3 linked regions of the Homo sapiens genome follow. The protein of the gene in region 2 interacts with the protein of the main gene of each other region in a pairwise test. Each region holds a gene or a part of one and is shown on either strand. Other genes may lie near its edges.

Region 1 (3,750 bases), on a different chromosome or scaffold from region 2:
GGTCACCACTCAAGACAAGAGCAAGTCTATTTTCAGAAAGCACAGGGGGTGCTCTGTTTCTCTATCCTCCCTAACAAATAGGCTGGGCTAGACCCTGGAGGGCAACCATGGAGGAGTGTGGGAAGGATTCACCCTTGCTTCAGAAGCTCCTTGCAATCAGGGACCAGGGTAGTGTGACAAATGCCACTTCAAGGTTAAACTGGACATGACCAGGGGAAGGTGTCAGGCTGTGTGTTGTTACAGATTGTATATTTGCATGCCTGGGGGTTACCAGGCTGTACGCATATAAACAGGGAGGAGGCAGGCTCTGAGAACCTGCCAGGGTGCCTGGGATAAGCTGTGACTTTTTGCCCCTGATGCCATAAGTTGGAGGGTCCTCTGCTCAAAACATATGGTACACACTTCTCCTTCTTTTCATCTGGTATCATGTATCATCTCTCAGATCCAATAAGAAAACATTCCCACGTCCTTCCCTCCCTCCCTAGTACCAAGGTCCTCATCTCAGTTTTCATGGGTCCATGGAGGGCTGCCTCTAGTGATGAGCTGGAATCTTAAGGCCTGAAATAGAGCCAGACTGCAGCAGTCCCAAGTCCTGGAGAGCTTCAAGTAACTGCTCCCGCGCAGAGCCAATAAAGGAATTCTCCAGGAAGGTAGGCAGGCCTCCTACACCATCCCGCAGGGTATACAGGGGCACTCGCACCAGGCCCAGCACCTGTAAAAGGAAGGAGACAGGAGACACTAGGGCCCCAGGTGGCTCATTCCCTTAACTCCATCCTTTCTCCAGCAGATCAGGCCTCACCCCTTAATACTCCAGCAGAACCAGGCCCAAGGCTCACACCTCACTAAAGCCTAGTGGCCCAACCTTCTGCAGGAAAATGACCCAAAACATATTATCTAGCTCTATCAATTAATCTTTCCCACATCTGCTTCTAAACCTCTAGTGGCTACTGCCTCAAAGATGTATTCATACCCTTTCACCAGTGGTTGTCAAAATGTGGTCCTCAGATTATTTGCATCAGCATTATTTGGGAACTTTTGAAAACTACAAATTCTCAGGTTTCCTCTCCCCCCGCCCCACCACCAATGCAGGAATGCTGAGAGAAATCGCTATTTTAATAAGACGCCCCGATGATTCTGCTACCTGCCAAATTTTGAGAACCACCTTCATACATAATCTATCTACTAGCCCTGCCTGAAATATCAGGGCCACATCTCCTACACAAGAAAAGCAAACCCCAAGAATAAAACCTAGGTTGCCACACCTAGATAATGTGATAATCTATCACACTGTCAATAGGGAACAGCAGAGAGACATGGATGAGTGTGTTCTAGAAAGGATCTCTCCTGGTAAAGGGTGGGAAAGACCTTTACAGAAAGCCCAGGTTGGCAGTACTAATTCAGAGTATAGATGATCACGATCCCAACTCCACCAAGAAAGCTGGGGAGAGGGCAAGGTCAGAGGGGCAAAGACTTTTCTCCAGGGATGCTTTCTTGGGGGAGAGAAAGCTTTGGGAGAAGAGGAAATTGGGAAAGGGACAGAGTCCCAGGCTGGTCCCACCTCCAGCCCGTGGTCCTTGGCGCGTGTTGCGCCGGCCTCCACAGCCAACAGCTCCTCGAGCGTCAGACGCTTGGCATAGAAGTGGGCCACAACGCGTGGCCCTGACCCGACGTGGGAGCTGCGGTAGTCAGTGCGCTCCACGCGGAAAGCGGCAGCCGCTTCGCCCAGCTCCTCGCGCAGCTCGCGGTTCAGCCCGTCCTCTAGGCTTCTGTCCTGCGTGTCCACGAATCCGCCGGGGAAGCCCAGGCGTCCATCGAAGCGCATCTGCATCTGCGGGAGGGGGAAGCGGGGATTGGCAGGGGCGCCCCAGAGGAGACCACCAGAGAGGGTGCGGGGCTCAGGCAGAAAGTGGCCGGGCGCGCCCCCTTCTCACCAGTATGGCGTAGCGCAGCGGGATGCGGCCGAAGAGCATCCCAGGGTCCGGCGCGTAGAGGAGAGCGTGGCACGCATGACGCCAGCCCGACCCCAGCGCCAGGGCCTCGCCTAGCTCCAGCCTGCGGGCTCCGGCCATGGCCGGACACTGCTCCTCTGCTGTCCCGAAGGCCCAATGGGCAGAGGGGCGGGTCTCACCTCGGACCAATCCGAGCCTGGGCGGTGCTGCAAGGCCCAATCCCTGCAGGGATAAGGGGAGGAACCTAGGCGCCTGGGGGCGGGGCGCCGCGACCGGTGCGGGAGGCAGCTAATCAGGGCGGGGCTTGCAGACCGGGTTGAAGTCCAGGGCCCAGGAACCCTAGGGTAACCGAAAGCAGCCTCTGGGTTGGGCCTGCGGTGGGGCGGGGCTAGAGGTGTGGCCGCGCCCTAAACCTGGCGCAAGGCCGGTACCTAAAGGCTCCTGGGAGCCAAAAGAGCAAGTCAGGGAACTAGCTTTGGTTGGGTTCGGTGGTACACAAAGCACAAGGCCTGGGTTGGGGTTAGGAGGAAATGAGACTTGCGGCGGGTCGGGGCTGAAGATGTGGCAGCGCCCTGAACCTGGAGAAAGGCTGGTACGTAAACGCCTGCGTCGCAATCTGGAGTCAGCTGGAGTGTCCCGGCAGGTGAGGAAGAGCTGGGGCGCTCAGTTGAGTGCTGGGAGCCAAAGAAGTAATAACTACCTTTGGTTGGGTGTGGTGGTACACAAAGCACAAGGCCTGGGTGGGGGTTAGGAGGAAATGAGGCAGGGTTGGCCTCAGACACCAAGGCCTATCCTAGGGAAATGGAGATGGACAGGCGCCATGGTCTGACAACTATCTTGAGTGGTGAAATTGAGGGGACTTGGTGACTGAGTGAATGGGGAAGAGGGAGCGCTGGGCTAGTGGTGGTTCCGAGTTTCCTGGATGTGGTGTCATTTTCTGAGAGGGGGAGAGTAGGAGAAGGGTGAGCAGTGATAAGTGTAGTTCTAAGGAATTGGGGTGGCCATAGGCAGTGGGCAGCTGATCGTGGGGGTCTGACGCACAGGGAGTGGCACATAGAGAAGTCACAGGGCAGTGAGATTTTCAGGGGAAGGGTGGGGGTGGAAGGAGCTGTGAGTGAAATCCTGTGGCACAGGACTGGGAGTGAGGAGGGGTGAGAGATAGAAGAAGCCTCCTAGGCTTTCTAGTCTTTCCCTCAAACCCCCTCAGACCTCTGAGCTATGAAGGAGGGTGGGTTACCCTACCACAAGGGCAGAGGCCTACTCAGGGCCTGATGCTGAGATGCAGGATCCCTCACTCCAGGCCAGGCCTTCCCCACCCTGCAGAGCGCCCCTACACCAGGTGTCGATATTGATTATGCAATAGAAAGCAGGAGGCAGCTCCTTGAGGGGGGCTGGGCATAAACTCACAGCCTGTAAGTGACGGCATATGGTGGGAAAGAGTCCGGACCCACCCAGAAACAGGTTTGTGACCTTAACAAGTCACTTAACTCTCTCAGATCCCAGCAGCTCATCTGTTAAGTGGAGATGATACCAACCTATTAGGGATGTTGAGATATGTTAGGCACTTAGAACAGTGCCAGGCAGAAAGTAAATGTAGCCATTCTTGGAGTTGAGGGTTGGGGCACAGTGCTATGTCTTACGTTGAGGAGCCAGGGCTGGGCACATACCTATAATCCCAGCACTGTGAGAGGCGAGGTGAGAGGATCATTCAAGGTCATGAATTTGAGACCAGTCTGGGCAACATAGCGAGACCCCGTCTCTACAAAAAATAATAATAATAAATAAAGACCCAAGTGTTGGA
Region 2 (3,650 bases):
TAAATATTGGCATGTCAACAAAGGTTGCTGCCTTAGCTCCTTATTTACGTTTTTTTTTTTTTTTTTTTTTTTCTGAGACAGAGTCTCGCTCTGTCGCCCAGGCTGGAGTGCAGTGGTGCGATCTTGGCTCACTGCAAGCTCTGCCTCCCGGGTTCACGCCATTCTCCTGCCTCAGCCTCCCGAGTAGCTGGGACTACAAGTGCCCGCCACCATGCCCGGCTAATTTTTTTGTATTTTTTTAGTAGAGACGGGGTTTCACTGTGTTAGCCAAGATGGTCTCGATCTCTTGACCTCCTGATCTGCCTGCCTCGGCCTTCCAAAGTGCTGGGATTACAGGCGTGAGCCACCACACACACCTGGCCTCCTTATTTATGTTTACTCTTCTTGTTGTAACCAGAAGTAAAGAATAACTGAGGACAAAGACATCTGTTCTTAAGCAGCTGTAAGATATCCCATAGTTCTCTCCACTTCTGAGTCCTAGTTTGCTGCCTGTAAACTTGAAGGAGTTGAATTCAGATTCTCTGAAGGCCCTCTGAGCTCTAACAGGGCCAGCATGAACCCGAGAACAAGGTCTCCTTCCATCTGTGCCCTACACACCTCACTTGCTTTACCACAGTCCCTGAGCTCTAAAATGCTCTGAAGGAACCCACCATGTTGCCTATCAGAAGAAAAGGAATCAATACCCATGCAATATTCTAAGTATAGCAAAAGTTGGAATGGTAGAGAATGTTAGTTGCCTGCCCCAACATCCATTCTTCTCTCCTTCCTTAGTTTAACAGAACCAGAATTTACCTGGGGCAGCAATTCACCCAGCCTCACCAGCAGGTGACAGAGCATGTGAGCCACGGTGCTGTGAAGAGAGCCGGGAAGAGCTCTTGAAGGAGTGAGGGGCAATGCCTTCTTTGTTCCTTCCTCCACCACACTGTATGACATGTGCCATCAGGCCAGGCGTGGTGGCTCACGCCTGTGATCCCAGCACTGTGGGAGGCCGAGGTGGGCAGATCAGCTGAAGTCAGGAGTTTGAGACCAGCCTGGCCAACATGGTGAAACCCCATCTCTACTAAAAATACAAAAAATTAGCCGGGTGTGGTGGTGCATGCCTGTAATCCCAGCTACTTGGGAGGCTGAGGTAGGAGAATCACTTCAACCTGTGAGGTGGAGGTTGTGGTGAGCCAAGATCGCACCATTGCACTCCAGCCTGGGCAACAAGAGCGAAACTCCACCTCAAAAAAAAAAAAAAAAAAAAAAAAAGTGCCATCAGGGTGGGAGCTCTAGCAGCCATCCTGGCCCTGAAGATGAGGTCCACCCTTAGTGGTGGGGGAGCGCCCTGAGCCGGAGAAGCCTGGGGTCCTGCTCACTGTGCAGATCTGCCATGCCTGCCCCACACTGCCCACCTCTGAACCTCATTCATGCAAGAAATGCCTACCTTATTTAAGCCATTAATTTTGGGCTTTTCTCTTAAAAGACCCTGTAGATAAGCTTATCAAACAGAGGCGGTCAGCAGAAATTCAGAGAGACTTAATGATAAAGATGGGGTATCAAAAGCCTGGCAAAGAACAAAGCTAACTGGATTGATTCCGTACATGGCATGCTTTCTTAACAGTTAAAAACACAAAAACTAGGACAATACCTCAAACTCTAAGAAAAGCCTCCAGGTTTCTTCCCACTTCTGGACACCTTCAAAGAGTTCCTTGTGAACTTCATAGTAGTTTTTTAACCGCACAATCTCAGCATCGTGGAGCTGGAGCAGACTTTCTGTGTAGTCCTCTGCAAAATATAGGCCCAGTAGTTTAAAACAATTCCTCTAGTATTTAGTATCCAATTTTACGAATCCCCGATTCCCTAAAATGGAAATAGATTCTTTCCTTATAGTAAACTGATACAGGAAGAGGCGTGTGTGTGTGTGTAATAGATATATAGTGGTTAATAAAAACCAGCTTTGTCACAATCAGCCTGGGGGAGTAGGGCCTAAGAGACTAGGATAGAGACTAAAATAATGTTGTCAAAAATCTGCATCATCTCTTGCCTTGTCTTCGGTTTCTTTCATATTCTGCTTTTCTGTCTTGCCCAGCCAGTAGAGGGGTGGATCACAGAAAATGTGCAAAAACATCTGTTGAATTTAGTTGGGGTAGCTCCATCTTTATATTCAGTGCAGTTCAGACTAGCATTCAACTGGACTCCAGGAGTCAAGCTCCTTTTGGCTCAAACGTAGGCTCTGGCATTTACCATTATATGTCTCTGGGTTAAATGACTCAGCATTTATGTGCTTTAGTATCCTCACCTCTTGACATGAGGATGTGAAATAATATTAAGGGTTTGACACTGCACCTGGCAAAAAGTAAGCACCTGATAAAAACTTAAGCTTCACAGCTAGAGGCTACAGTGACATATTGCTTCAGAAAGCAAGAGACCAATATTTCCCAATAAAATTTGCAAATGCTTTTTCATACAGGAATGGCAATTATGCTAAATGTCTTGAAAAGGTGGCTTTATCTGTTCAGAAAAGGATATACTTCCTGTTGAATGTCTGGATGTCTTAAAAACTAGTGAGCAGGCCACATGAAGACCCCACTTTTGGCTGGGTGTGGTGGCCCAACACTTTGGGAGGCCAAGTTGGGAGGATTGTTTGAGCCTAGGAACTTGAGACTAGGCTGGGCAACAGAGTAAGACCTGTCTCCAAACAAACAAACCAAAGACCTCACTCTTGTACTAACCAGCACAGAAAGGGGCAAAAGCTTGTCTCTGCTCCTGGCTATAAAAGCACTGGTCCCAGTACTGAACCAGCTCCACTCGAATTGCCTCAATCACTTTCTTCATGTTTTGCATTTTCAGTTCTTCCAACCGATCCACTTCTAATTGCAGCTGAAAGAAAGAAACTTGTTAAGGGTGGCTGCCATAGTTTTATATTCACTCAGGTTTGCAAAAGATCCCCCCCTTTTAAGTAAAATTATAATGCAAAGCCACAAAGGTATTATAAATCAACACTTTTTTTTTTTTTTTTTTTTTTTTGAGACAGGGTCTCACTCTCTCGCCCAGACAGGAGTGCAGTGGCGCGATTCTGGCTCACTGCAACCCTCCACCTCCCAGGCTCAAGCGATTCTCCTGTCTCAGCCTCCCAAGTAGCTGGGATTACAGGCGCACGCCACTACCACCTGGCTAGTATATACAGGGTTTCGCCATGTTGTCCAGGCTGGTCTCGAACTCCTGACCTCAAATGATTCACCTGCCTCGGCCTCCCAAAGTGCTGGGATTAGAGGCATGAACCACTGAGCCTGGCCAAATCAACAACAGTCTTTATGACTAACACAGAAGTGCTAAGAGAAGACTGCTGACCCAGTACCCACTGGGTTTCTTACCGCTTTCCGGACCTTGGCCTTTGACCCAGACATAATGGTGGCCACAGCTTCTCTTTCTTCTTCAGGTATTTGCAACCTGTCCCAGAGCTCTCGGATTTGAGTACGCAGCCCCTCACACACTGCTTCATTTTGTGATTTCTGCATTTCCAGCTACAGCATAGAAAGCCAGTGTCACTCACGGCAAAGCAGCAGCACAGAGGCTAGCCCTCTAGCCTCCCGCAAAGAAATGTCTGGAGTAGAGGAGGAGGCACTTTCATGAGAGTTCAAAGTAGCATGTTTTCATGCCTCCTAAAC
Region 3 (3,650 bases), on a different chromosome or scaffold from region 2:
CCCCTTGGAACAAAGCTGTGATCTCCAACTTGTGTCAGACCATCTGGAAATGAGGTACATTTCCTGTCAAACAATGTGGAACGTTTTAATAACCACATATTCTTTAAAGTTCAGGGAACCAAAAGTAATGTTCTAGTTCTATCTTCACAAGAAATCAGCAGTTTAATCTTCAAGGGCTGAGATGCAGCAGGAAACTGGAAGAATAGACCAAGTAAAGAATTCAAATGAGCTTGCTCACATTAAAGAGGCAGCAAGACTCATCACTCTATGAACAAAGACTCAGGAATCTTTAGGACTAAAGGAGACACTCATTGTCCACCAAACAGCTAGATCTAGGCATCCAGGCAACACAGGCTCCAGGGGAGGTCCTCATGATAATAAGGACTACATCATGCCTCCAGTAACCCCTGCCATACCGTAGAATTATAAAAAAGTTGGTAAAGATTCTACAAGTTGAGTCATTTTGATATTTAGCAAGTTATTCCAGTTATGCTTCTTTTAATTCTATGAATCTCAGAAATATCCCAGAAAGTTTTATGAACCATCTCTTTAAATCTAGGCAGTGTAGGAACTACAAAAGCAGTAAATATTAATATACATTTCTAGTTTATTCTCAATTATTTTAAAATGAATCAACAGTTTACAATTATTTTCTATCTATATTATTTTGATAATTTAGAAAAATATTTAATAGATTAGCTTCAAAGTTACCATTCTTATTTCAGTTTTTTGCTCAATATTCTATAGTAACAAATGCAGGCTAGGACATCTGAATCATATGTTAATAAAAGTTTAAAAACAAAAGGGGAGAAGACAACCTTTATTTAGCACATCCACTCCAGGCTACATGCAATGTAACATTCATTATTTCATTTATTCCTTATAATATATTTAGGTGGAGAAAATGTGTACCAGATGGTTTGGTGTGAAATTATACCTAAGTTTCCTAAGAGACAGATATCATCTTGTCCACATTTTAGTTAGGGAAACCGAACCTTAGACAGTTGAGAAACACAGGATCTACTGGACTTCAGAGCCTCTGCTCTCAACCATTAAGCTAATTAGTCAGAAGTCATATCCAGAAGATTGCCTTTGTATTCCATTTTTCTTGTATTGTGAAAACTAGACATTTTAGGCAAAATAAAACTACCATAAAGGGACCTAAACTGTGATATGTCTCCACTTTCCTGTGAAGAGTATCCCAGCACAGGATTCACAGAAACCTAATCCTTTTCAAACGGTGTTTGATGGAAGTGAATACCACTTTTCTGAGGTGCAACAAACAGCTAAGCGGAGAAAAATGATCCCATTGACAATATCAATCAAGATGCAGAGCTAGCATCTGCTTGGCAACTTGACTACGATGTTCTAAAACACTTTAAGTAAAAAAAAAAAAAAAAAAAAAAAAAAGCTTTAGAGAAATAACTCTAGGTGCCCTCTCAATTTTAATAAGATGTTATGACTTCCACTAAGCACATGGAATACATTGTCTTTCTGATCTATGAGCTTTAATATGTTAGTCATGATGACATTTTTTAGCCACCACTCCTTTAAACTTGAAATCTCAAGGTAGTAAGAGAAATTACAAATACAAAATTTTAAATATTTCCAAATGATCTCTTAATTAGCATCAGCATGAATGATACCAGTATAAAGGAAGAAAGGGTAAAAACTAAATACAGGGTTATGGCTGATCACTAATACAAAATTTATATTTGGCCTATAAATATTTTTAAAGACCATTTGATCACATCTGGACCCAGCTTTGAGAAATAGTGCTATATAATAATTAAGAACTGTAATTGTATAATTATAAATTTTTTTATTGGTTTGTTTCTCCATAATATATAGAATTTATGTGTGAGGGTTCAGGTGATCATTAGTACAAAAACACAACAGGCTTAGAATATTACATGATTGCTTCTCCCATAGTTCTTAGAAGTCAGAGTCCAACTTCTGCAAGTGTGGAAGAAAGATAAATGATGAAGAGATAGAATAAACGAATGACACAGACAGCAACCCACCATGTTGACAAGACAGATCAATTTCCCATTACCCTGTCAAATGCTAATGGAAAGCAACCTCCATGTTCCTGCTGCTACACAGATCTTAATTCTAGATGTCAGGAGATCAGAGGGAAAGACACATCCCAAACTTGCCTAGATCTGGCTGTGTAAGAGCAGCATCCTCTGCAAGCATCATCATTCATGCTTACAACCTCACTCTGTGCTAGGAACAGACAGTAAGAGACTGAAGGCTGTGGACAAGGTAAGGAATGACAACTCACAGACTTTGCCTCCATGGGCTTGACCACAAACTTCTCAGCTTGTACAACCCTGCCTCTGCCACAGGCACCAGCAACAATGCAGAGATGCCGCACATTTATAACTCATTCCGAGCCAGCTATGTCATGAAGGTTTTCTTGAGGCTGTGCGTTTATAAATCTGGGACACGTAATCAGAAGCCAGTCAATTAGAGACGCAAATTTAGACCAAACTGAGAAGGTCTGGAGGATGATTTTTAATCTGAGAAACATTGACCAATTATCTATATTTCTCTTAAAACCATTTCTTGGCCGGGTATGGTGGCTGTCATCCCAGCACTTTGGGAGGCTAAGGCGGGCAGATTACCTGAGGTTAGTGGTTCAAGACCAGCCTGGTCAACAGGGTGAAACCCCATCTCTACTAAAAATAAAAAATAAAAAATAAAAAATAAATTAGCCAGGCATAATGACACATGCCTGTACCCCGGCTACTTGGAAGGCTGAGGCAGGAGAATCGTTTGAACCTAGGAGGTGGAGGTTGCAGTGAGCTGAGATCGTGCCACTGCACTCCAACCTAGGAGACAGAGACAGATTCTGTCTCAAAAACAAAAACAAAAACACAAAAACCATTTCTTGACCACATATAAAAAAATTAAAGCATATCAAATACCAAAAAAGCATACAACCTACCTCCATTGGTCCTATTTGGTTGCTGATCTGGAGTTTGGGCTTGAGGTGAATAATACTGTTGCTGCTGGTAATTATTTGAAGGAAAATACTGGGAACTGGGGCTCCTCCTACACTCCCGAATGCTGGAGAAAGTCTGTGAATGGGGAATTCCTCTTTGGAAAGGGGAACATCTTGGAAGACGAGGCTGAGGTGGTGGCAAATGATCAAATTCCTCTTCATCCTCCAGACTGTATTGGTCATATTCTTGATCACTACATGTCCCTTTTTTTCCTGAACTCAATGACACACTGGAACTATGTCTTGATACAGATGCTGAAGTAGAAGCATAATCTTGCCTGAGACCTATAAAATAACAAATAGTACTCTAATGTATTTTGATCTAGCTAACATTTAGTTATAATTAACCAAGTATTAGATGAAAAATTGTGCCAAATAAATTACTCACAGAGACTTATTATCTTGTTCTCAAGTTTACTAAATTGACAAGTTTACCAAGACAATAATCACATTTACCTATGAAACAGATATCTAATATTGGACAATTCTGTTTTGCAAAAAGATTGCCCCAATTCCAGTGAGGATTATATATACCTGCCACAGCTCATTCGTTAATATCTATCAATTTCCCCTTTTCAAATCAAGAGATATTTTAGAAGGGGAACTTAGGAAGAAATATTCATCTCATTATGAATAGTTT

Evidence for each region.
Region 1: the proteins of PRC1 (region 2) and NUDT16 interact in a two-hybrid assay, tested with the Homo sapiens proteins (one large-scale study listed by BioGRID).
Region 3: the proteins of PRC1 (region 2) and SLAIN1 interact in a two-hybrid assay, tested with the Homo sapiens proteins (one large-scale study listed by BioGRID).

What each region holds. Positions count from the first base shown.
Region 1 is NC_000003.12:131,380,124-131,383,873, reverse strand, and holds the start of NUDT16 (U8 snoRNA-decapping enzyme), read right to left. Parts: upstream 2,101-3,750; 5' UTR 2,070-2,100; coding exon 1,932-2,069; exon of another isoform or gene 1,829-1,931; coding exon 1,559-1,828; coding exon of another isoform or gene 1,283-1,558; exon of another isoform or gene 1,093-1,282; intron 713-1,092; coding exon 533-712; 3' UTR 531-532; coding exon of another isoform or gene 432-530; 3' UTR 1-431. UniProt on the Homo sapiens protein: RNA-binding and decapping enzyme that catalyzes the cleavage of the cap structure of snoRNAs and mRNAs in a metal-dependent manner. Part of the U8 snoRNP complex that is required for the accumulation of mature 5.8S and 28S rRNA.
Region 2 is NC_000015.10:90,977,528-90,981,177, forward strand, and holds part of PRC1 (protein regulator of cytokinesis 1), read right to left. Parts: intron 3,507-3,650; coding exon 3,357-3,506; intron 2,863-3,356; coding exon 2,715-2,862; intron 1,768-2,714; coding exon 1,631-1,767; intron 1-1,630. UniProt on the Homo sapiens protein: Key regulator of cytokinesis that cross-links antiparrallel microtubules at an average distance of 35 nM. Essential for controlling the spatiotemporal formation of the midzone and successful cytokinesis.
Region 3 is NC_000013.11:77,746,159-77,749,808, reverse strand, and holds part of SLAIN1 (SLAIN motif-containing protein 1), read right to left. Parts: intron 3,296-3,650; coding exon 2,954-3,295; intron 1-2,953. UniProt on the Homo sapiens protein: Microtubule plus-end tracking protein that might be involved in the regulation of cytoplasmic microtubule dynamics, microtubule organization and microtubule elongation.